Homo sapiens: one gene and its partner. The protein of the gene in region 1 interacts with the protein of each later gene in a biochemical or structural test. Each region holds a gene or a part of one and is shown in the gene's direction. Other genes may lie near its edges. The genes, in order: RAB26 and ADRA2B.

Region 1 (10,853 bases):
TGAACCTGGGAGGCAGAGGTTGTAGTGAGCCGAGATCGAGATGGCGCCATTGCACTCCAGCCTGAGTGACACAGCAAGACTCCATCTCAAAAAAAAAAAGAGAGAAACGTTGCAAGGAAAGCACTTGGTGCAGTCCGGGGTAGTCAGTGATTGTTACGGTTACGCAGGGGTCTGTTTTGTTCATCGACAGGGATCCCTGCACCTGCCGTGAGGCCATGTGTGTCACTCTGAGGCTGCCGGGAGAGCCTGCAGCCAGGAGCCCTGATGCTGCCTCCTCCAATGGCTAAGCGGACACCCTCACTCAGCTCAGGCGCAGGAAGCCAGCACTGCTGAGAGCAGGCAACTGGCTCCGTAGGAGTGAGGATACTGCTCTGACAGCCACAGAGGCGCACATGACTCCCCCGTTAGCTCATCTTCTGTGTGGCAGATCACCTCTGCTGCCTTCCCGTCTGGGAGCACCTGAGTCACTGTGGTCACGTCTGCAGGCAACAGACAAAGGGTCCCCATTCGGGCAGGGATGGACACCTGTTTGTCCCGACCCACCCGGTAGGGCCTCAGGGCCACCATGGTGAGCAGGCTGAAGGGGGGTGACCTCTCAGGAGGACACCAGACTGCTGCACACCTGGACACCGGAGAGAGCTTACCTGTGATGTCACCCACGTGCTGGGGTGACTCAGTGCTCCTCTCTCGGGTGGAAGTTGCGTTCAGTGCTGCCGCAGTTCCTCCAACGTCTCCATGGCAACGTTCACACGGATTTCATAGAACATAAGGTGTTTGAGCTGGAAGGGACCTCAGAGATCGGCTCCTCCTGCCCCCTCATTTCATGGAGAGGGGAGCAGGCCCAGACAGGGAATGCCACGTGCCCAGGGGCACATAGCAAGCCGGGGACCCCGCGGAGGGCACAGACCGCTGAGCTCCAGAGGAGGGTCTTGGGAGGTGCCCTGGGGGCACAGGCCGTGGCGGCTTTGCCACTCCCTGGCTTGCTAAGAGCCCCTTGAAGTCCAACCCAGCTCTCTGCTGCTCAGCCACAGAGCTCTCGCTCGAGTGCCTGGCGGGAACAGGAGTAGGCAGGACAGGGCCCTGTCCTCAGGAGGCTCCCAGGCTGCTACAGCGGCCATGCAGCCGCTGGGGAAGGGCTGGAGAGCATCCAGGGAGCCAGAAGTGGGGCAGGAGGAGCCAGGGCAGGCTCCCTTGAGGGTGGGGCTCCAGGCAGAGTCTGGAAGCCTGAGGAGGCCTCACTCGTGCCTGCGCCCCCTCTCCTGGCACACAAGGGCCAGCCCGAGGGCCCCACTCTGGGGGCAGAGTGTAGGGAAGAGGCTGGAAAATGGGGGCCAGAAAGAGACTGTCCTGATCCATGGCTCCCAGGGGTCGTTTTGGCTGGGGGCTCACAGCACACATCCTTCCAGACACCCAGGACGGTCAGAAGGAACTGGCAGGAGTTAGAGGGCACGGTGTAAGGATGCCAGGGGGCCGGGCCGTCAGAAGGTAACAGGAGCGAAAGTCCCAGAGCAAGGCCCCAAGGAGACCCAGGGCGCTCTCTCCGCTCGAGGACAGGAACCCGTGGAGACCTTCCCCTCCCTGGAAGAGCCAGCTCTGCACCAGAAGGGTGGGGGGCTGTAGCACCCCTCCCAGGGGAACACGGACCTCACTCTCCGCCCCCAGCTCCCAGGGCCCATCTCAAACTCGGACCCTGTCTCAGGGACCTGCCCTGGCCCACAGGACTCCTCTCTTCTCCAGGTCTGAAGATGCCAAGAATCCGGACATCCCAAGGCCTCCCTGCTGAACTTTCCCACCATGCCGGCCCCCGCCTTGCCCTCGCCGGCCCCCGCCTTGCCCTCGCCGGCCCCCGCCTTGCCCTCGCTGGCTGCCTGTTCTAGTTTTTCTAGTTTTATTTGTTGTTGTTGTTGTTGTTTTTTGAGATGGAGTCTTGTTCCGTCGCCCAGGCTGGAGTGTGGTGGTGCGATCTCCGCTCACTGCAAGTTCCACCTCCCGGGTTCACGCCATTCTGCTGCCGCAGCCTCCCGAGTAGCTGGGACTACAGGCGCCCGCCACCACACCCGGCTAATTTTTTGTATTTTTAGTAGAGACAGGGTTTCACTGTGTTAGCCAGGATGGTCTTGATCTCCTGACCTCGTGGTCTGCCTGCCTCGGCCTCCCAAAGTGCTGCTGGGATTACAGGCGTGAGCCACCGCGCCCGGCCTTTTTTTTTTTTTTTTTTGTGGAGACCAAGTTTCGCTCTTGTCGCCCAGGCTGGAGTACGATGGCGCGATCTCGGCTCACCACAACCTCCGCCTCCTGGGTTCAAGCGATTCTCCTGCCTCAGCCTCCTGAGTAGCTGGGACTACAGGCGCCCGCCACCACACCTGGCTAATTTTGTATTTTTAGTAGAGACGGGGTTTCTCCATGTTGGCCAGGCTGGTCTCGAACTCCCGATCTCAGGTGATCCGCCCGCCCCGGCCTCCCAAAGTGCTGGGGTTTAATCCATCTTTAACCCACTGCAGCATCCCACTGGTCTCTGCCCATGGGCATGGACTCTGACCCTCCCCTCCCTGCCTCCAGGCCTACAGCTTCTTTCCTGAAGGTCCTCTCTGTTCCTATTATCCCTCCCCTGGGTGACTGCAACCCCCATCAATCTCATCTCCAGGCCTACAGGCTCCACCATCCATCCCCTCCTGCCAGTCCCCAATATTCCTGTAGCACAGCGTCCTCTGTTGTTCTGCTCAAAAGCCACGCACAGCTCTCTACTTCCCGCTGTACAATTTCCAAGCTCCTAGGAATAACACTCAGGTTTCCCTTCCCAGCTGACCCCATCCTACCTTACCAGCTTGATTACCTCCCGTTTCCTCCAAGGAACTGGGCCACACTTTGGCCACCTCGGCACAAAGTGCCCATCTCCTAGCACTCTCAGCCTATGCATATTGACTCCCTCCACCTGGGGACTGTCTTTCTCTCTCGTGTCGGACTCTAGCTCAATCCTCAAAGCCCAGTGCAAACCCTCCCTCCCCCAGAAGCCTTGCCCTCACTACTGATCACACTTGCCTTAAATCTTTGTTAGCAAGGACATGTCCTCCTGAAGTGAGGCCTGTGTTTCTAAGTCACATTTCTTTCTCTTTTCTTTTCTTTCTTTTTTTTTTCCCCAGAGTCTCGCTCTGTCACCCAGGCTGGAATGCAACAGCACAATCTCAGCTCACTGCAACCTCCTCCTCCTGGGGTCAAGCGATTCTCCTGCCTCAGCCTCCCGAGTAGCTGGGATTACAGGCGTATGCCACCAGGCCCAGCTAATTTTTGTATTTTTAGTAGAGACGGGGTTTCACCATGTTGGCCAGGCTGGTCTCAAACTCCTGGCCTCAAGTGATCTGCCTGCTCAGCCTCCCAAAGTGCTGGGATTACAGGCGTGAGCCACCACACCTCTTTCACCAATTTAATAACTGCTTATGGAGGCCCAGAGCTGGCTGCTGGGGACAGCAGTTGACCAAGACAAGCTGCTTCCTGTGCCCGGAGAGCTTACACTCCAGAGGGTGAAACAGATGGCAAACACAGCAACCAAGAGACATAATGATCAAAGATTCCGAGGCCTGCTGGAAGCCAAGAGAGGGGTCTGTGATGCAGGCACCCAGAGCTCCCCATTTTCAAGAGAAACCAGAGACTTGGATTTTTATGTAAACTCTCCTAATTTTAAAGGTTGCCAGCGCAAGCCCGTTTCCTCTGCTCTCTCAAGGCTCCCCTCCCCGCCTGGCCTCCCACTTTCTCCAGCGCGCCTGCCTCCTTCTCTTCCTGGGGGCCCCATCCGCACTCCTCCCCCTGCAGGATGCCCTACTTGCACCCAACTCCTCCTGCTGCCCGCGCCCTGGGGGTACCTGAGCAGCAGCTGGCAGGACGGGGTCCACTGGACTGGGAGTCCACTGCCCAGGACCCTGGGGCCAGTGCACAGCAGCTGCTGAGGCCCCCAGCTCAGACCCTGGGCCAGCCATCCTGAAAGAGGCCTTGTAGCGCGGGTGGACACCTGGAGTCCCCAGGGCTGCAGCTGCAGAAGCTAAATGCCTCTACCCAGGCCCAGTGCACACACACTGGGGGTTGGTCTGGAAGAGCTGGGGGGCCAGAGGAGTGAGACAAGGAAGGGTTCTGAGAGGGCTTCCGGGTTTGACCCCCAGCTCTGCCAGGTTCCTGGGGATTAAGTCTACAGGGATTTCTGCCATGGGACGGTTTATGTTCTCTGGAGCTGGAGATCACAGGAACAAATCCTAGCTCTGCCCTTCCTAGCCTGCTGACCTTGCACAGGCTCCTTGCCTTTCTGGGCCTCGGTTTCCCCATCTGGACACTGAGGGCAGTACCCACCTTGCAGGATAACTTTGAAGAGGTCGTGTGCCTGGCACACAACAGTGCTTGCTGTAGGGCAGGCTTCCACGGCCTCTGCCAGGCCCTCTCGAGGAATCACTCTGCTGGGCAGTGCCCCCCATCTGTGTTTTCTCAGGCCTCTGACCCGAGAGGCAGCCAATTGTTTGGACTCTGGGCACTGCCAGCTGGGAGGGCTCAGGTCTCTGAAGGGCCCAAGGTCCTGGTGACAGCTGTCAGGTCTCCGGGGACAGCTGGGTCATCTCTCCAGCTCCCAAAGAAACACCAAGAAGCCCCTGCATGCCAAGGACACCACCCCTCTGGACCACTGTGCCCCAGCTCTGACCACTGCAGTCCCATCTTCTCTGTGAGAGGGGGTGACAGAGCTCCAGTGCAGCCCAGGTTGGGGAGGTGGGTCTGCCAGGGACCAGCTTAGGATTTGGAGAATCGGCCCTGGCCACCTGAAGGTCCGAACCTGGAGGAGAAGGACAAGGGGCCAGCCACACAGCCTGGGCAGGGGCCTCTGCTTTCCACCTTTCAGACCCTGAGGGCAGAGTCCCGTGGGAGGGGACCCTCAGGGGGCCGGGGGCTGGCTGCCACAGCGACTTCCTCCTTCCCGCAGATCCCCAGGCGTGCACAGCAGGCAGAAGCTGTGGGGGAGATCGCAGCGCCCGCTGTGTCCTCCCGGTGACCAGCTGTCACCTGAGCCCAGGGCGCCTGCCCCAGCAGCCTGGTGTGTTTGCCAAGCCAGGGCTGGAGCTTCCTGGACCCGCCTACCCTGGAGGGGATGGAGCAGTGAAGGGCACCGGGCCAAGCGCTAGGCATCTGGGGCTAAGGAGACAGAAGCCCGCGGTGCCCGTCCATGCGGGCCCTCTGCCCCAGCACCCACATCTCAGGACACCCCTTCCTCCCAGGTCTGGCGGTCCAGTTTGGGGGTCACCGAGCTGGGGTGGTGTGCAGCCAGCAGAGGGGATTCAGGATCCCGGGGTGACTCCTGGCCCAGGCCTGTCACCCCACAGCTGGCTCCTGGCCCCAAGGCAGCCACGGGCAGGGGTCGTGATCGGGGGCGGGACGGGGCCCGGACCTCCTGACCGCCCCCCACCCCCCGCCGAGCGGGGGTGTATTTGCATGTCCCCGCCCCACGCACGGCATTGGCGGCGGCGGCGGGAGGCCGGGCCTGAGTGGCTGCGCGCCCGTGGAGCGGCGGGGGCGGGGCGCGAGCCGGGCGCCCGGGATGATGCCGCCGCCGCCGCCGCCGCCGCCGCCGCCGCCAGGGGAAGGGTTCGGGTCCGGGTCGGGCTCGGCGGGCGCGGGGTGCGGGACGGCCCAGGGCACGGCGGCTGCAGCGGGAGCACACTGAGCGCCCGCCCGCCATGTCCAGGAAGAAGACCCCCAAGAGCAAAGGGGCCAGCACCCCCGCTGCCTCCACGCTGCCCACCGCCAACGGGGCCCGACCGGCGCGCTCCGGGACTGCGCTTTCCGGCCCCGACGCGCCGCCCAACGGGCCCTTGCAGCCCGGCCGGCCCTCGCTTGGCGGCGGTGTCGACTTCTACGACGTCGCCTTCAAGGTGAGCCAGGCACCCGCCCCCCAGGCCAGCGCAGCAGGTGGCGCCCGGCCTGAGCCAAGGGTTGGGGGTCGGACAGGGGGTGCAGGGCCCGCGGCCCCAGGGCGCGGAGCCGACGCGGGAGGAACCCCGTGGGGCTTGCACGGTGCATCGTGCACACACAGCTGTCCATCCCAGGTCTGGGGTATCCAACAGCTGGCAGGGCCTGTCCCCCACCCCCCAGGCGGCATGGTGGCACAAGGGGTCCCGCGCCCCAGTGCCCTGGCCCCCGCCCGGGGTCTCACCATTTCCCGTATGCTGCCCTCCCTCAACCCAGCGGCTGTGGGCCTTTTTTTTTTTTTTTTTTTTTTGCTGGGGGGAAGAGGTTTGCCAGATGGATGGGGAACCCTGGGACTCCAGACCAAGGCAGAGGCTGTGTGGACTTGGCAGGGGGCTGGGAGGACCATTTTGGGTTTGGTAGCACAGGTTTCGGGGAGAAGGCCTGACTGCTGCCCACTTGCACCTCCCCCCAACCTCAGACTTGGCCCAGGTCCCTCTTCAGATCGAGATCTGATCCTAATGGGGCAAATTCCTCGAGCCTTGCTGGGGTCATGTCCCTACTGGGATGTGGAGAAGCCCCCGGCAGAGGCCTCCCCAAGTCTCTTAGGAGGTACCCAGCTGCCACCCCACCTGCTCCCCTCCCAGATGCTGTCCACCGTGTGGGGGTATGGACGTTAGGGAGGGTCCGGGATGCAGGTGGCTGCCCTCACTCCCCGCTGACTGAGACGGCCACTGTGCAGAAGGACAGAGCAGCCCCAGCCTTTCAGAGGCATACGCTGGGTGTCCAGCCCATCGGGGTCCCTGGCCCCGCTGAGCCTGCAGGCCTGGGCTGCCTCCCTCCACTCCTGCTCCTCACCTGCAGCCCCCTTCTGACCAGGCCAGCTCAGGGCAGACCAGACTCCCCCCAACCCTCCTGCTTGTCCTAGGTCATGCTGGTGGGGGACTCGGGTGTGGGGAAGACCTGTCTGCTGGTGCGATTCAAGGATGGTGCTTTCCTGGCGGGGACCTTCATCTCCACCGTAGGCATTGACTTCCGGGTGAGTGGAGGCCCTGGCCTGGCCCCACATCAGAGTCCCGCCGGTACCCGAGCAGCAAGTTCTCTCTGATCCCCATGGTACCAACAGGCTCGAGGCCTGGACCCCAGAAGCTGCCTGCCTCGACCTTCCAACACCTGGGCTGGTGGCTGCACCCGACAAGCATAGTTAGTTGCCCTATGCCAGGGGCTGGCATTACCGAGGGACCATATCCTGTGCCTTGGGGGAGGCGGACACTGTTGCCTACAGGGTGGTGGGTCAGAGGAAGTCAAGGGCCACGTCCACTTGGGGCCAGCAGTGCTGCCTCGGTACAGAGGCCTTACTGGGCCCTAGAAGCACATGCTCCCTGCAGAGCCTGAGCGAGGGTTTCCAGGGCTTGCCTAGGGGAGAGGACCCTGCTCTTGGGTGAGGAGCGCCCACCCCCACCCCCACCAGCTGGAATTCCTCGTGCTGAGGTGCCGGCTTGTCCTCAGCAAATCTTAAATTTGCATTTTTCTCACCCTTTAATTAGAGCCAGTTAGAGGGAGGATGGAGGAAGGGCTGTTCCAGGGACAGGAAAAGGGGCTCCCTCCAGTCTGGGGGTTCCAAGTCCCCTCAAGTCCTCTGGGATGGAGTGACGACTGAAGTGCCCGAGGGGGGCAGGCCAGTCCTGTCTGGTCCCCACTTCCCCACCTCCCTCTTGGCTCTCGGGCAGGTGGTAAGAGGTGAGGCCATTTGGTTCGCACTCTCGTTCAGGGTGCCAGGGAAGGCGGTGTCCTCCCCAGCCCAGCAGATGGCCCTGCCTGGTTCCCGGGAGACCCAGAAGCACTCTGACAGCAGGAGCTCAGGCTGAAGGAGGTGGCACAGGTTCCAGCTGCCCAGGGCCTCAGACTGCGGCTGAAGCCCCCCGCCCCCACCCCAACAGATGGGACTGGGGCTAGACCACTCCCTGCCTTACGTCTAATCGTTAACTGGGAGGGCCCGGCTGGGGACGCTGCCAGGCAGTTCTGGGATCTGCGGTTACTGCCTTGGGTCAGACAGGCCCAGGCCCAGCCCTGACAATCCCAGCAAGGAGTGGCTTTAATTTTTTATTCTTTTGAAGCAGGGTCTCACTCTGTCGCCCTGGCTGGAGTGCAGTGGTGATCATGGTGGACTGCAACCTCCAACTTCTGGGTTCAAGCCATCCTGAGTCTTTCAAATTAGCAAAAAGAGCTACTGGGAAGGCTGAGGCGTTGCAGCTCGTTAGTTACTGCACCCATTTGCAGATGAGGAAACCGAGGCAGTGTCAGTAAGAGGCCTGGTGGGGTCATGAGTTCAAATAAGTCAGCGTAAGAGGCTCTAAGCAGGAATAGTGCAGAGGCTGCCGGGAGAGGCCTGCACTTGCAGGTGTGGGTGAGGTCAAATTGGCTTAAGGGAAGCCTGCAGGGGCTGGGCTGGACCTGGGAGCTGGGAGGTCTCAGGGGACAGGAAGGCAGTGAAGCTAGTGGGACCAGAGGCTGGGCTGGGCCCATGCCAGAGCTGCCTGGTTCTGTCTGTTTCAGAACAAAGTTCTGGACGTGGATGGTGTGAAGGTGAAGCTGCAGGTAAGGTGACTGGCAGAGGACAAGTTGGGGGACAGGGGACACCAGGGAAGGGCTGGACAGCCTGACCAGTGCCTGTCGCTGCAGATGTGGGACACAGCTGGTCAGGAGCGGTTCCGCAGTGTTACCCATGCCTACTACCGGGATGCTCATGGTGAGCCCCTGGGTACCTGGGCTGGTTGGGGCGGGGGTCTGAGCACCTGAGGGTGCAGGTGATGGTGGATGTCCTCACTGCCCTCTGTCCCCAGCTCTGCTGCTGCTCTACGATGTCACCAACAAGGCCTCCTTTGACAACATCCAGGTCAGTGGCTTTCCTGGTGGGGTGAAAGGGCCCTGATAGGGCCTGACCCATCCCAACCTCCTTCTGGTAGATGGCATCAGGGTTCCAAAGGACCCCGCTGAGAGAGGGGAGGGGGAAATGACAGCCTTCTGGGCTGGAGGTGGCCCAAGTGGACCTGAGTGCCATTCCAGCTCCCTCAGCAGGAGGCTTTGTGTAAGGGACCTGTAAGGTGGGCTTCTGTATGTGGTACACGGGGGGTTATCACTTCTAAAGACAGGTATCCTGGCCAGGCATGGCGGCTCACCTGAGGTCAGGAGTTCGAGACCAGCCTGGCCAACATGAGGAAACCCCATCTCTACTAAAAATACAAAAATTAGCCGGGCGTTTTGGCACACACCTGTAATCCCAGCTACTCAGGAGACTGAGGTTGCAGTGAGCCAAGACTGTGCTACGGCACTCCAGCCTGGACAACAGAGCAAAACTGTCTCAAAAAAATAAAATGGGCTGGGCATGGTGGCTCACACCTGTAATCCCACCACCTTGGGAGGCTGAGGTGGGCGGATCACGAGGTCAGGAGTTGGAGACCAGCCTGATCAACATGGTGAAACCCCGTCTCTACTAAAGATACAAAAAATTAGCTGGGCGTGGTGGTGCGTAACTGTAATCCCAGTCACTTGGGAGGCTGAACCCTCCCAAGGTTCTCTGAACCCCAGGAGAATAGCTTGAACCCAGGAGATGGAGACTGCAGTGAGTCGAGATGGAGCCATTGCACTCCAGCCTGGGAAACAGGGCGAGACTCTTGTCTCAAAAAAAAAAAAAAAAAAAAAAAGATAAAGACAGGTGCCCTCTACAGTGTGACCTGGAGGGCCAAAGTTCTGGGGCATGGGGCAAGCCATGCAGGGAGCCCCAGCCTGGTCTGCTGCCTCCCACAGGCCTGGCTGACCGAGATCCACGAGTACGCCCAGCACGACGTGGCGCTCATGCTGCTGGGGAACAAGGTGGGAGGCCCGGCTGTCCTCACCTGGGCCACAGGGCAGGGCAGGTGAGGGGGCAGGGGCCAACCATGGGCCAGCTTTCACCAAGACCCTGTGCCTGGGCCAGGTGGACTCTGCCCATGAGCGTGTGGTGAAGAGGGAGGACGGGGAGAAGCTGGCCAAGGTGAGTCAGGGCAGGGGGGTGGTGAGGGGGTGCCCCTGGAGGCTGCGAGCCTAGGCTGTCCCCGCCAGGCCACCACCTGGCTGGCAGCAGCTGTTTACAGGAGTATGGACTGCCCTTCATGGAGACCAGCGCCAAGACGGGCCTCAACGTGGACTTGGCCTTCACAGCCATAGCAAAGTAAGTCCTGCCAGTCACCAGGACTCCCCCAGCCCAGGGCCTGAATCCTCATTAGAGTCCAGGCCATCGTGTCCCCTTGTCACCCCCACTCCGCAGGGAGTTGAAGCAGCGCTCCATGAAGGCTCCCAGCGAGCCGCGCTTCCGGCTGCATGATTACGTTAAGAGGGAGGGTCGAGGGGCCTCCTGCTGCCGCCCTTGAACCTGGCTGAGCTCAGTCCTCTGGAGGAAGCCGTCCAGTCCCTAGAAGGCTGGACAGAGGGTCTCCAGGCCCTTCTGACTTTGTTGCCCAGTGGCCAACGCCCGAGTGTCTGTTTTCAGGAGCCCCAGGTCAAGCCTTGTCCCTTCCTCCTCCCAGCAACAGTCCCAACAAGCAGGCTTCTGAGAGCCCGTGGCCGCACACTGGCCGCCACGGAAAAGCAGTCTTCTGCACGGGACGGGGAGCGGCAAGTGGACAGACTTTGCCACGGTGCTCTGCTGCCCCCTCCTGGGCACGTCCAGGTGAGGGAGGGCTGGGGCTGGCACCACGCACAGTGCCTAACCCTAGAAAAGCCATGTCTTCAGCCGCACATGCTCAGGCAGCTAAGGGAGGACGCCTGCCCACGCCTGGGACAGAAGGCTTCACTGCTAATCACATCGTGCATCTGTGTGTCCTGGGAGCTGCCTGCTCCCGGCCCACCCTCTAGGAGGCTCTGGCTCAAACAGCAATAGG
Region 2 (11,312 bases), on another chromosome or scaffold:
AGCAGGAAGGTGGTAGGTCAAGTGTGGCCACCATTGGGGAGACGAGAAAGAAGTGGGGCCCCACCAGATTGCACAATGGGAACCTCAGCTGGCCCCTGAACAGAGGACTCAGTTGTCTCCACCCTACACCGCTATTCCCTGGAGCTCAGCCAGGCGCAGCCTTGGAAGGAGAAAGGGCTGGGGTTACCTGGCTTGTCCTCCTCCAGGAAAGCCCCCTTCCTCCTCTGCCCCAGCTCCCAGCCTGGCCTCCTCCAGGCAGGCCCTACTCCTCTGCCCCAGCTCCGGCTTTCCCCATGAGGTTTGTCCCAGGCATGAAGAAAGCATCCAGGGTGCCAATGAGTGGGCCTAGGCCAGAGGCCCCTCAGTCCCCAAGGGTACTGTTTTGGTGGCCTTTCAGAGGGTCAAGGAAGCCCTGCTTGGGGTAGAAGGGGCAGGAGCCCCACATGTTGGGGGAGGAAATAAAGTGGAGTGTGCTGTGCTGACCTTCCCACCTCCTGTGTGCCTTTAACACCCCTTGCCCTCTGGGGCCCCAGGTGGCTATCCCACCTCCCAGGGAAGACAAAGACTTCAGCGAGTGCTCCAGGGGTCCTGGCCAAGAAGCAGCAGGGCAGGGCTGAAGCTTGGAGTTCCCAAGTTCTGGGGAGAGGTTGCTGTTTGCCAGCCTTCTGGAGGGTCACGTGCTGGGGCCGCATTGAGGACATGGGGATGCACTCAGGGGACACTGTGTCCTCTACCTTCAGTCGGCCTTGGGTTTCAGTCATGAGTCATGAACCCTGAGACTGAACAGTGGCCCAGTCCCAGGCATTAGCACAAGGGAAGGACTGCAGGGAGGTGCTGTTCTTCCTCTTGCTCCTGGCTGGGGGAGTGGGGTCTGCGTGAGTGTAGAGTGGATAGGGGCTCTGGCCATGCCCCAAGGAGTAGGGGACAGCCCCGCTGGGAGGCTTCCAGGCAGAGACCTTGAGGCAGCCCTAGGACAGAGGCAGTACATGCAGTGCCCCATTTATCAAGGACAGTAGAGAGGCTTGCACTCCTCTCGGCCTCTGCTGTTGGGTGGAAGGAGGTGCTGTGCTTCGTACCCAGGGAGGACCCTGGGGCTCGGGCCACCCGTCACCAGCCTCCATTGGGATTTGTCTCTTGGTCTCCGATCTTGTTCTCTTGAAGATGCCACTTGTCTGAGCCTGGTGGCTTAAGGGGAGCACAGGGACAAGGTTCAGTCGTTTGAGCCCCAGCCTGGGTGGTGGGAGGGGTACAGGGCCCTGGGGTGTAAACCAAGCCCAGGCGGCTAGCCATCCCCTCCCAGGGGTCTGTGGCTTGTTCACCTCCCCAGTCACCGACCATGCAGCTGTGTAGGCTCAATTTGTTCACTCATCCAACATACCAGGTAGGCAGTCTCTGTTCTGCTGGGAATAGCAGTGAGCAAGGTGGGTTCCTCTTCTCGTGGAGCTTATTCAGGGTGGGGAGGGTTGGACAATAAGTCAGCAAACCAGAAAACATCTGGCATTGGCAAATGATGGCAGAGCAGAGCACCCCCTTAGGCTGCTGGTTAGGAAGGGCCCCTCTGAGGATGTGACATTTCAGCCTAGCCCTAAATGGCAGGAGGCTGCCTGTGAAAATTCAGGAACTGAATTTCCTGAATTCCTGAGTAGCCAGTGCAAAGGCCCTGAGGCAGGGGAAAGCAAGGTGTGTTGGGTCTGTGTAACTGGCATGGGGAGGGGCCCACAGCCAAGTCAGAGATGGGGAGGGTTTTATTCCACAAGCAACAGGCAGCAACTACTGGAAGGTTTGAAGGAAGATGGTGCCACATCCGACTTAAGGTTTAAAACGTCCTCGATGCATTCTGGAGAATGGGCTGGAAGCAGAACAGCCGGGAAGCCACTGAGGTTATGCAAGGGAGAGAGGCTACAGAGATGGACAGGAGCAGGTGCCTTTGGAGTGTTTAGGGGTCACAGTGGCCCCACTTGTGATTGCATGCATGGGGTGAGGGCACAGGCTCTGGGTGGGAGCTGCACCATTCACTGAGAATCCAGCACTGAGGACCTCGGGGCAAGGCAGGGCTGGGGGAAATGGGTATGTCAGGTCTGAGGTGTCCATGCGACATCAAAGGGGTCAGAGAGTAGGTGGGCTGAAGGAGTCTGGGGTTCAGCGGGGAGAGCAGGGCAGGAGGTGCCTGGGGGAGTGCTGTCGAATCTGGAGGGGAGCCACACGTGTAGAGGAAGAGGAAGGATCCCCGGACTGAGCTGGGTTGCTGCATTTAGAGCAGCATTTCTTAATTTCAGCGTTGCAGCATTTTGTACCTGGTAATTCTTTATTGTGGGGACGGCCCTGAACCTTGCAGGACATTTGGCAGCATCTTTGGCTTCTACCCACAGATGCCAATAGCGGCCCCCTCCCTGTATTCCAGACATTGCCGAACGTCCTTTAGAGGAGGAGAATCACTCTTAGCAAGAACCTCTGACTTAAGAGTTTGGGAGAAGAAAGGGCTGCAGAGGAGTGGCTTTCAAGGCGGTCACAGACCCTGTGAGTGTTCCAGGGGAAGGGCTGCTGTGCCAAGTGCTGCTGAGAAAGAGGGCAGAATAAGCCTGGTGCTTGGTGATGTGGAGTAGGGCATGACCCACAGAAGACCCTCGGTGGAGGGTCTGAAGATGACCTGCCGGGGGTTAAGGAGAGAATGTGAGGGGTCAGCCACAGTGCCTGGATACAGACACGGGGGGAAGGTGGCTATGGGAGGCAGCAGAAAGGTGATGGGGCTTGGGGGGCAGTTCTAAGGGGTGGGGCTGGCTTTGTAGAGTAGGGGCAGTGACCATAAGAGGGGGATAACTGAAGCGGGGGAACCCTGGGGTGAGATGAGAGGGGTTGGGCTCTAGGGCATAGGTTGAGGACTTGCCCTTCAATCAGCAGAGAGAGTTTGAGGCCAGATGCAGGTGGGCGGCGGGGGTGAGTTCCTGCCTGGACTTCCGTTTCCCCCTAAGTACCAGGCAGAGTCACAGCATGGTGGGGCGGAGGAGTGGCTGGGAGGTTGGAGAGGGAGGGAGGGATGCCGATTTTAACAAGTGGGAAAGTGAGCATACTAGGGAAGTTTGGAGATTTGTGGTCATGAATTTAGAGTGAGGCCAGTCGATGCAGAGAGTGTTTTGCTCCGGAAAGAGCAGCTGCTTGGTCAAAGGCAGGCAGTGGGTGGATGATTTAGGTTTGACCAGAGCTGGGGTTTTGTCAAGATCTTTATGCAGAGAGGACGACTGACTTCTATTATAGAGGACACGACCCAAGGATCTGGGAAGTGGGGAGGTTGGGGCATACAGGATGGTCTGGGGTTAAGAGTCCCAGGGACTGAAAGGCTGGTGGGGGGCGGGGTACATCTGGAGAAAGGTGGGGTGTGTGGCCTGATGGGGGTCTGTCCCAGTGGGCCCTTAGGGGAGGGAAGGCACCGTTGTGAGCTGCTGGAGCCCCAGCCCAGGAGATCTGGTGGCACCATCTCACCTCTCAGGCCTGGAGAAGTGTCTCCATGGCTTCCAACTAAGGTCTCACAGCCAGCAATGGGACAACAGTCTTGCCCTTCTTTGGAAAAGGTGGATCGCTTCCATGGCTAGGTCCTTTCCCCATGGCCCCTCTTCCCAAGGACATCCCTCCAGGGCACCCTCATTTGGGCTATCTGTCTTAGAATGCTCATGTGTATGAGTGCACTGTTGCCTGCTGCCACTGTCCCTCACGGCCAATGACCTTGTGCCAGGTACTGGGGACAGAGAAGGGATGTCCACTCTGATGGGCAGAGGTGATGCAACAAACCCATCAGAGAGCATCTTAGTACAGTGTGCTGAGTGTGAAAGTGGTGCCGCCTGGCGTCGAGGAACCTGGAGAATGGAGGTCCTCCCTCTGCCTGAGAGCCTGGTGACTGGTGAGTGGGCCTTGAAATGTGAGTAGGAGCCCACCAAACACAGAAGGAAGGGTGATAGGGCATCTCTATCAGAGCAAACAGCCCCAGGGAAGGTCTAGAGAGTGGAGACCCAGGGCACATTCAGAATCCAACACTGGCCTGGCGGGGCAGGGATGGAGGGCTGGGATCCAGGTTGTGCCCTGCTGCCCACTCCCCTGCTATGTGTCTGGGAAAGCTCCGGCTGCTCCTGCTGCTGGCTGTTGCTGGTCTGGGACTGAACTATGCCCGTTCCTGTGGAACAGGATGACAGTGGAAGGTCAGGTCTAGTTTGGGAAGAGCTGAAGGAAGCCTTGCTATGCTAGTAGGCTCCAATTCCTGCACCTGGCAGCCTCATGGGGCTGGTTGGAGCAGGCAAGGCCTGAAGGTGTGTGTGTGCGGGGGGAGATGGTGAGCCGCCGAGAGGAGCAGGAGCTGAGTTATGTTATGGCCTGCGTGGCCGTGGAGAGCTGGCGCACCCACGCTGCACTTGTCCATCCTGGGGTGGAGCCAGGAGGAGACAGCTGCAGTAGACGGTGACAGCCTGGGGCAGCGGTATGGATGCCAAGGCAGCTCCTGCTGCCCGGAGGGCACACATCTCCCAGGTCTGCCAGCTGTAGACTCTGTCCCTGGCTGTCCCCACCTGGCCTAGTGCCTAGCTGGCCCAATGAAAGATGCCTAGCAAGGCTTGGCACTCAGTAGACCCAAAGTTGTCACTTCTAGGAAGGCCCAGGTAAGCGTCCTCAGTGGGGACTTGCAGGGTGGGGAGGGCACACGGGCAACCCAGTCTCAGCTCCTGCAGCATCCCTTGAAGGAAGATGGGTCAGAAGACAAAGGCTGATGCTGGCTGCAGAGTCTGGGGAGCTGCTCACTGGCCCCCAGCCCAAGTGTGGTTGGAGACAGTGGAAAGGCGGTTCCTCCCGATGCCCATGTGGGCCTCTAGCAGGCCCAGACTGTGAAGGCCTTGGGAGCCCCTGGATAGGCAGGCACCTGCCTAAGTAGCTGCTCCCAGGCTCTCATGGCCACCCTCTGTCCTTCCTCAGGGAAAGAGCTACTGGCATCTCTCCATCACTGGTTATGTATGCCCAGGCGGCGCCCAGGCCCTGCCCAGCCCAGAGGGTGGGAAAGACACATCCAGGAAACTGTGTCTAGCAGAGTGGTCGGTTTTGAGCTGAAGCCTAGGGTTGGGGGTGGGAAGGAGGCTGATTGCCCTGTCCGAACCCAGCCCTGGCAGCATCCACCCCATGGGCTGTGGGCACTTGCACCTCACCAGAAGCTGGGGAGTCTGGCAGAATGACAGGGATGGGGGGATCAAGGAGGCACCTACTCCCAACACACCCCCGTGGCTGGGGGTGCTGGTCTGGGTACCTGAGACGGGGCACCTCCCACCTGAGCCTGGGGAGGCGCTAGACATTGTCCGTGGGCACTGAGAGGCCACGTGCTCTGCTCCCATGGAGGGAGCAGGGAGGAGAGGAGGTCCAGCAGGTTGGACGGGGCCTGGGGGAGCCCCACTGTCAGAGGTGGATTGGTGCTTATTTATACAGAGGATGCCTTGCAGAGTCGTGGGCTGTGAATAAGAGGCCTGGCTCGAGGCGGGGCTTATGACATTAGGGGCTCCAGAACCGGGGAAACATGCCCTCAGGGCTGCCCAGGCTGGTGCTGGTGGCGGTGTGGCAGGGAGAGTGAGTTGGGGCCCTGAGGGAGAACAGTTGCTCATAGCGCTTTGAAGGCGAGTGGGGGGCCTTAGTCTGAAGTTTCTTTTTACCCCAACCCTCTTTCCACTGTCACCCCCAGAAGGGCTTCAGTGTGTATGTGGGGCAGGACCGCAGCAGGGAGGGAGGGTCAACCCCTTCCCCCGGGGTCACTACAGAAGCGGAGGGACGCTCCTCTCTTCACGGCTGCCCCTGAGACCTGCTTTTTCTCGGAGCTGTGTGACAAAGTCCCCACCCTTTACTCCCCCACGGCAAGGAAGGGACCTCCCCTTCGCATTAGTCAAGGGGCGGCAGCTCGCCCTGTGCCCCGTACAAACCCTTGGCTGAATCGCAGTTGATGCTGTGATTCGAGTCCAAGCCAGTTTCCCTGTTACCTCCTTTGCCCTTAATGGAGGAAACTGAGGCAGCTGCGGAGACACAAGAAGCCGAAGTCCTAAGACCCAGGCTGCGAGCGCTGGCTCCGGGACCCGGGCTGCCGCTGACGGGCTGGGCCCGCGGGCGGCAGCAGGGGGCGCTCGCAGGCCGGGACGCGCCCTCCTCGCGCGGCGCTGGCCCGACGGAGCTGGTCCGCGAGGGGCAGCGCCTGGGAAAGGGTCGGGACCGGCTCCCCGCTCCCCGCTCCCCCACCTCTCCGCAGGGCGTCTCCACGGCCGAGCCGGGCGGGGTTGTGGTGTATTGCGACCCGGCGCCCCAGCCCCACGCCCGCCCTGCCCTCCCTGCGGGCTCCCGAGCGGCGGAAGGCAGAGCAGGGCGCACCGGCGCCGGGCCCAGCCCGGTTCCCCCGGGAGAAGTGTCCCGTCCCGGTGCCGGCCCGCGCGCTAGCTCCGCGTCCCGGCTCCCGGCACCCACCGACCCCTCCACAGCTGCGCGCGTCCTGCCTGGGGGCCGGAGACCCCGGCCGCCGGGCCCCTCCGCTCTCCCGAGGCGCGGCCGCCGGGAGGAAGGCAGGTAGAGGCGCTGGGCGGGGTCCGGGCGCGGGAAGTCCCGGGCTCACGCCTCCCGCGAAGCGCACCTTCAGCCCACCTCGGTCCGCCCACCGCCCCGCCTCCCGCCCGCTCCCGCGCCCGCCTCCAGTCTCCGCCTTCCTCCAGCCGCTCTCCCCGCTCCCCACTCCCCTGCAGGCGCGGCTGGGGCGAAAGCCTGCGAGCTGAGCGGGCGCAAGGTCCTCCGCGCCTCCTTTAAGAACCGGCCCAGCCCGGCCCGCGCCCCCAGAGCGTACGGCATCCGCGTGGCGGGAGGGCGCGACTTTCTCCGGTCCCGGGCGGGACGGGGACGGCGGCGGGACAACTTGGGAAACTTCTCTGGGGCGGACGGCAGGGACCCCGGGCACCGGTGGAGGAGGATGTAGGAGGGCGGCTGCTGGTCCTGGGTGTTCCCGACCTCCTAGGCCCCGCTCGTCCAGGCCATGGGGCTCCAGCGCCCTCGGCGCCGCCCGAGGGGCGACGCTCTTGTCTAGCCGAGCCGGGCAGCGCTGTCGTCCACGGTGCGCACTGGGCGGGCAGCGCTCCCTCTGCCCACCTCCCGCCCCGTCATGGACCACCAGGACCCCTACTCCGTGCAGGCCACAGCGGCCATAGCGGCGGCCATCACCTTCCTCATTCTCTTTACCATCTTCGGCAACGCTCTGGTCATCCTGGCTGTGTTGACCAGCCGCTCGCTGCGCGCCCCTCAGAACCTGTTCCTGGTGTCGCTGGCCGCCGCCGACATCCTGGTGGCCACGCTCATCATCCCTTTCTCGCTGGCCAACGAGCTGCTGGGCTACTGGTACTTCCGGCGCACGTGGTGCGAGGTGTACCTGGCGCTCGACGTGCTCTTCTGCACCTCGTCCATCGTGCACCTGTGCGCCATCAGCCTGGACCGCTACTGGGCCGTGAGCCGCGCGCTGGAGTACAACTCCAAGCGCACCCCGCGCCGCATCAAGTGCATCATCCTCACTGTGTGGCTCATCGCCGCCGTCATCTCGCTGCCGCCCCTCATCTACAAGGGCGACCAGGGCCCCCAGCCGCGCGGGCGCCCCCAGTGCAAGCTCAACCAGGAGGCCTGGTACATCCTGGCCTCCAGCATCGGATCTTTCTTTGCTCCTTGCCTCATCATGATCCTTGTCTACCTGCGCATCTACCTGATCGCCAAACGCAGCAACCGCAGAGGTCCCAGGGCCAAGGGGGGGCCTGGGCAGGGTGAGTCCAAGCAGCCCCGACCCGACCATGGTGGGGCTTTGGCCTCAGCCAAACTGCCAGCCCTGGCCTCTGTGGCTTCTGCCAGAGAGGTCAACGGACACTCGAAGTCCACTGGGGAGAAGGAGGAGGGGGAGACCCCTGAAGATACTGGGACCCGGGCCTTGCCACCCAGTTGGGCTGCCCTTCCCAACTCAGGCCAGGGCCAGAAGGAGGGTGTTTGTGGGGCATCTCCAGAGGATGAAGCTGAAGAGGAGGAAGAGGAGGAGGAGGAGGAGGAAGAGTGTGAACCCCAGGCAGTGCCAGTGTCTCCGGCCTCAGCTTGCAGCCCCCCGCTGCAGCAGCCACAGGGCTCCCGGGTGCTGGCCACCCTACGTGGCCAGGTGCTCCTGGGCAGGGGCGTGGGTGCTATAGGTGGGCAGTGGTGGCGTCGACGGGCGCAGCTGACCCGGGAGAAGCGCTTCACCTTCGTGCTGGCTGTGGTCATTGGCGTTTTTGTGCTCTGCTGGTTCCCCTTCTTCTTCAGCTACAGCCTGGGAGCCATCTGCCCGAAGCACTGCAAGGTGCCCCATGGCCTCTTCCAGTTCTTCTTCTGGATCGGCTACTGCAACAGCTCACTGAACCCTGTTATCTACACCATCTTCAACCAGGACTTCCGCCGTGCCTTCCGGAGGATCCTGTGCCGCCCGTGGACCCAGACGGCCTGGTGAGCCCGCCTGCGCTGCCCCTGTGGGGTTGGTGCGGTGGCGCCGGGGTCACCCTGCTTCTTGCCCTGCTGTGTGTGGCTGCCTCCCCTGGGCTTTCTGCTCCCTGCCCAGATCCTGTAGGCCTCATCTTAGGAACCCCTTGGGAGGGGTGGGCAGGGGGGCTGCTAGCAAGGGTCCCAGTGAAGCTTCCCCTTGCCGGCTTAGCTGTGGGGGACCCCTTCTCCACCCTCTCCCTGAGCACAGGCCGATGGAGGTGGTTCAAATCCTCTGGAACATAGCCAAGACCAGGAGAAGAGAGAGCACTTTCTTCCCAGAGCCCCATGCTCTCCAGACCAATGTCTGGGCTTCCCTTTCTTGAGGACCTTGTGTTCCTGGCAGGTCACTTGCTTGTGGTGTTTTCGTTTCTTTTTCATCTCCCCCCCACCCACAAAGAGCACGGAGCCAGCCTTCCACTTTTCCCAGTGGGGCCTGCTGCTGAGGGGGAGGAAGAAACGAAGACTGATCACCCACGCTAGGCACTCGCGGTCCCTGGCAGGCGCTGGGATGGGGGCTTATGGGGTGGCATCGTCTCTGGGCCCTCCTTTCCCCCTTTGCCTGTTTTCGGATCTGTGGTTCCTTTGAAAGCCAGAACAATGGATCGGCTTCCTTACCCAGCACCCCTCCGGTAGGTGGGTGGCCACGTGGATGCCTCGCTGGGGCGGTCTTGGAGGCCTGGTCTCTGCCTCGACGGGAGATCCCCGATCACTGGCATTCACCCCCTGCAAAAATCGGGGCGACAATAGCTCACTGCCTACTTGCTGCAGGGAGATGAAAGGCTTTGCAGAAAGCTTTGAGCTCTGTGGGGGAACACACTAGAGAACCAAAAATGTGATTATATGGTGATATAAAAATCCCTTTCCTCTGTGTTTACCACCACCTGTCTTCCTGTAGACTTTTGTTCTGTCCCTGGGGTGTGTGAATTCCTACCCCGAACTGGAAGCCGGGAGTGGCAGACAGAATCACTATTTCAAGTTAAAGGATCTCTTTGAGAATGTGTTCTTCTGGCTGCAAAGGTCTGAGTTATTACGCTACATGACAACGTTTCGACATTTCACCGGCAACACCAAGAGGGTTTTTAGTGGCTTGGGTCTCCCCAGTGGGGGATAAGTCTTTTGTCATCAAGGAGGCAAATTGTCTCCCCAAGACAGCTCAAAATATCCACACCTCGGCAACAGTCTAAGATGAGAGCCTGTGACAGGTGGCAGCGCCCCCAGGTGGGGTACTGGCATCAGAGCCTGGTGCGCCCCTAGGGGAGCCTCCCACTGGAGTGCCCGGCCAGGTCTCCAAGCCCCAAATGAGTCCTTGTGAACCACAACTGATCCCCCCAGGTGGGTGCTTGTGGACTGCCTCGGACCCAGCCACGCTGCTCCCCGCAATGCTGATGGGGCTGTGCATTGAGGACCCCTGCTTCCTGGTTCTCAGTCCCACCCCAAAACCTGGCACCCAGAACAGTTGGAAGTGTGGAAAGGAGGTTTATCGGCCTTCCCTTGGAGAGGGCCTGGCTTCAACATTGGGCCAGTAGGCATCTTAGCTTGGCAGGTGTCGGGGGAATGGGCCAGATGGACCTGCTAGATTTGGAAGGGCACCGAGGGAGTTTTCTGGGTGTAGAGAGAATGGAGGGGACCAAAAAGAGTCCTTCCTGGGGTGTGGGAGGCTTCCCAGCTTGGTCCTCAGTGGGTTGTTGAGGCCAGAGTATCGCCCTGGGATGTGGTGGGGAGCTGGGCCAGGAGAGGGACTGACTGTGACCCTCTGCTGGCCGGTCTTGTGTGCGCCCCATGGGACCCCCAGTGTTCTTGCCTGTGACCTCTTATTGCGACATGCAGGTGGTGTTTTTTTTTTTTTTAAACTCTGAGCTATTTTATCAATAAAGGATATTTTGTAATAAGTAAGTGGTGTCCTTGTTGCCCAAAGGCTGCCTGGAGCAGTTATTCCTCAGCTGCTGGCACAGCAGACTCTGGGTGCTGGCCTAATGACCTGGGGCTCCCTCCCAGGGCCAGTAGTCCTCTCCTCCCCGAGATGTGGCTGGCTGGTTCCCCCAAGCCCCTGCCCTTCCTACCCGCCTTTGTCCACAAAGCATCCTTACTCATCATCACAAGCCAATGGGTGAGGGTGGCTGGAGGAGCCTGAGACTGGCTCCCTGGGAGGGAAAAAAAGGGAGGGTTTTCTGGAGGAGGTGGCCTTTGGGTTGGGTCTTGGAGGAAGAGAAGGAGTACACCAAGAAGCAAGATGGGAGGGTGTTTTGGGTAGGGGGAAGGGCATGTGTAAAGGATGTGATTGGTGGATTTGTGGCTGGGTTTGAAAACAGCCCCAAGCTAGCCCCGGGTGGTCTGGTGCCACAGCCTTCCTGCCCTACTTAGTGGCCACAGAGTGGGCAGTCCCTGGAGCCTGAACCAGGTGGGCCTGCTCCCATGGGCAGGGGGGCAGATGGCAGGCTGGCAGCAGGAGGCCGTGGGCAGGGCCAGTGCCAGTGGCCAGCCCAGGGAGGGGAGGGAGGAAGGAGGACACGTGAAGCCCCAGGGTCCTCAGTGTGAGGCCACCCCTCTACTTCCACATTGGCCCAGAATCTTCACTCTCACCACCTCCATACTGGCGTGGGCCATGCTTCTGCTAGGGACAACCAGCGAGACCTCCAGTGTACCCACCATCACTGACAGACACGGGGACATGGGCTTTGCTGAGGACTTAACAAGAAAGACATGCCCTGCCCTGCTCTCAGCTTCCCACACCTGCCGAAGCACCCACTGCTGACACCCAGAGGCCTGATGTGGGTGAT

What was found.
Region 2: the proteins of RAB26 (region 1) and ADRA2B form a complex in vitro, tested with the Homo sapiens proteins (one study listed by IntAct).

What each region holds. Positions count from the first base shown.
Region 1 is NC_000016.10:2,143,079-2,153,931, forward strand, and holds the start of RAB26 (ras-related protein Rab-26), read left to right. Parts: upstream 1-5,546; 5' UTR 5,547-5,705; coding exon 5,706-5,900; intron 5,901-6,862; coding exon 6,863-6,973; intron 6,974-8,490; coding exon 8,491-8,532; intron 8,533-8,616; coding exon 8,617-8,683; intron 8,684-8,777; coding exon 8,778-8,830; intron 8,831-9,741; coding exon 9,742-9,807; intron 9,808-9,910; coding exon 9,911-9,967; intron 9,968-10,067; coding exon 10,068-10,144; intron 10,145-10,240; coding exon 10,241-10,343; 3' UTR 10,344-10,853. UniProt on the Homo sapiens protein: The small GTPases Rab are key regulators of intracellular membrane trafficking, from the formation of transport vesicles to their fusion with membranes.
Region 2 is NC_000002.12:96,111,988-96,123,299, reverse strand, and holds ADRA2B (alpha-2B adrenergic receptor), read left to right. Parts: upstream 1-6,728; 5' UTR 6,729-7,150; coding exon 7,151-8,503; 3' UTR 8,504-10,424; downstream 10,425-11,312. UniProt on the Homo sapiens protein: Alpha-2 adrenergic receptors mediate the catecholamine-induced inhibition of adenylate cyclase through the action of G proteins.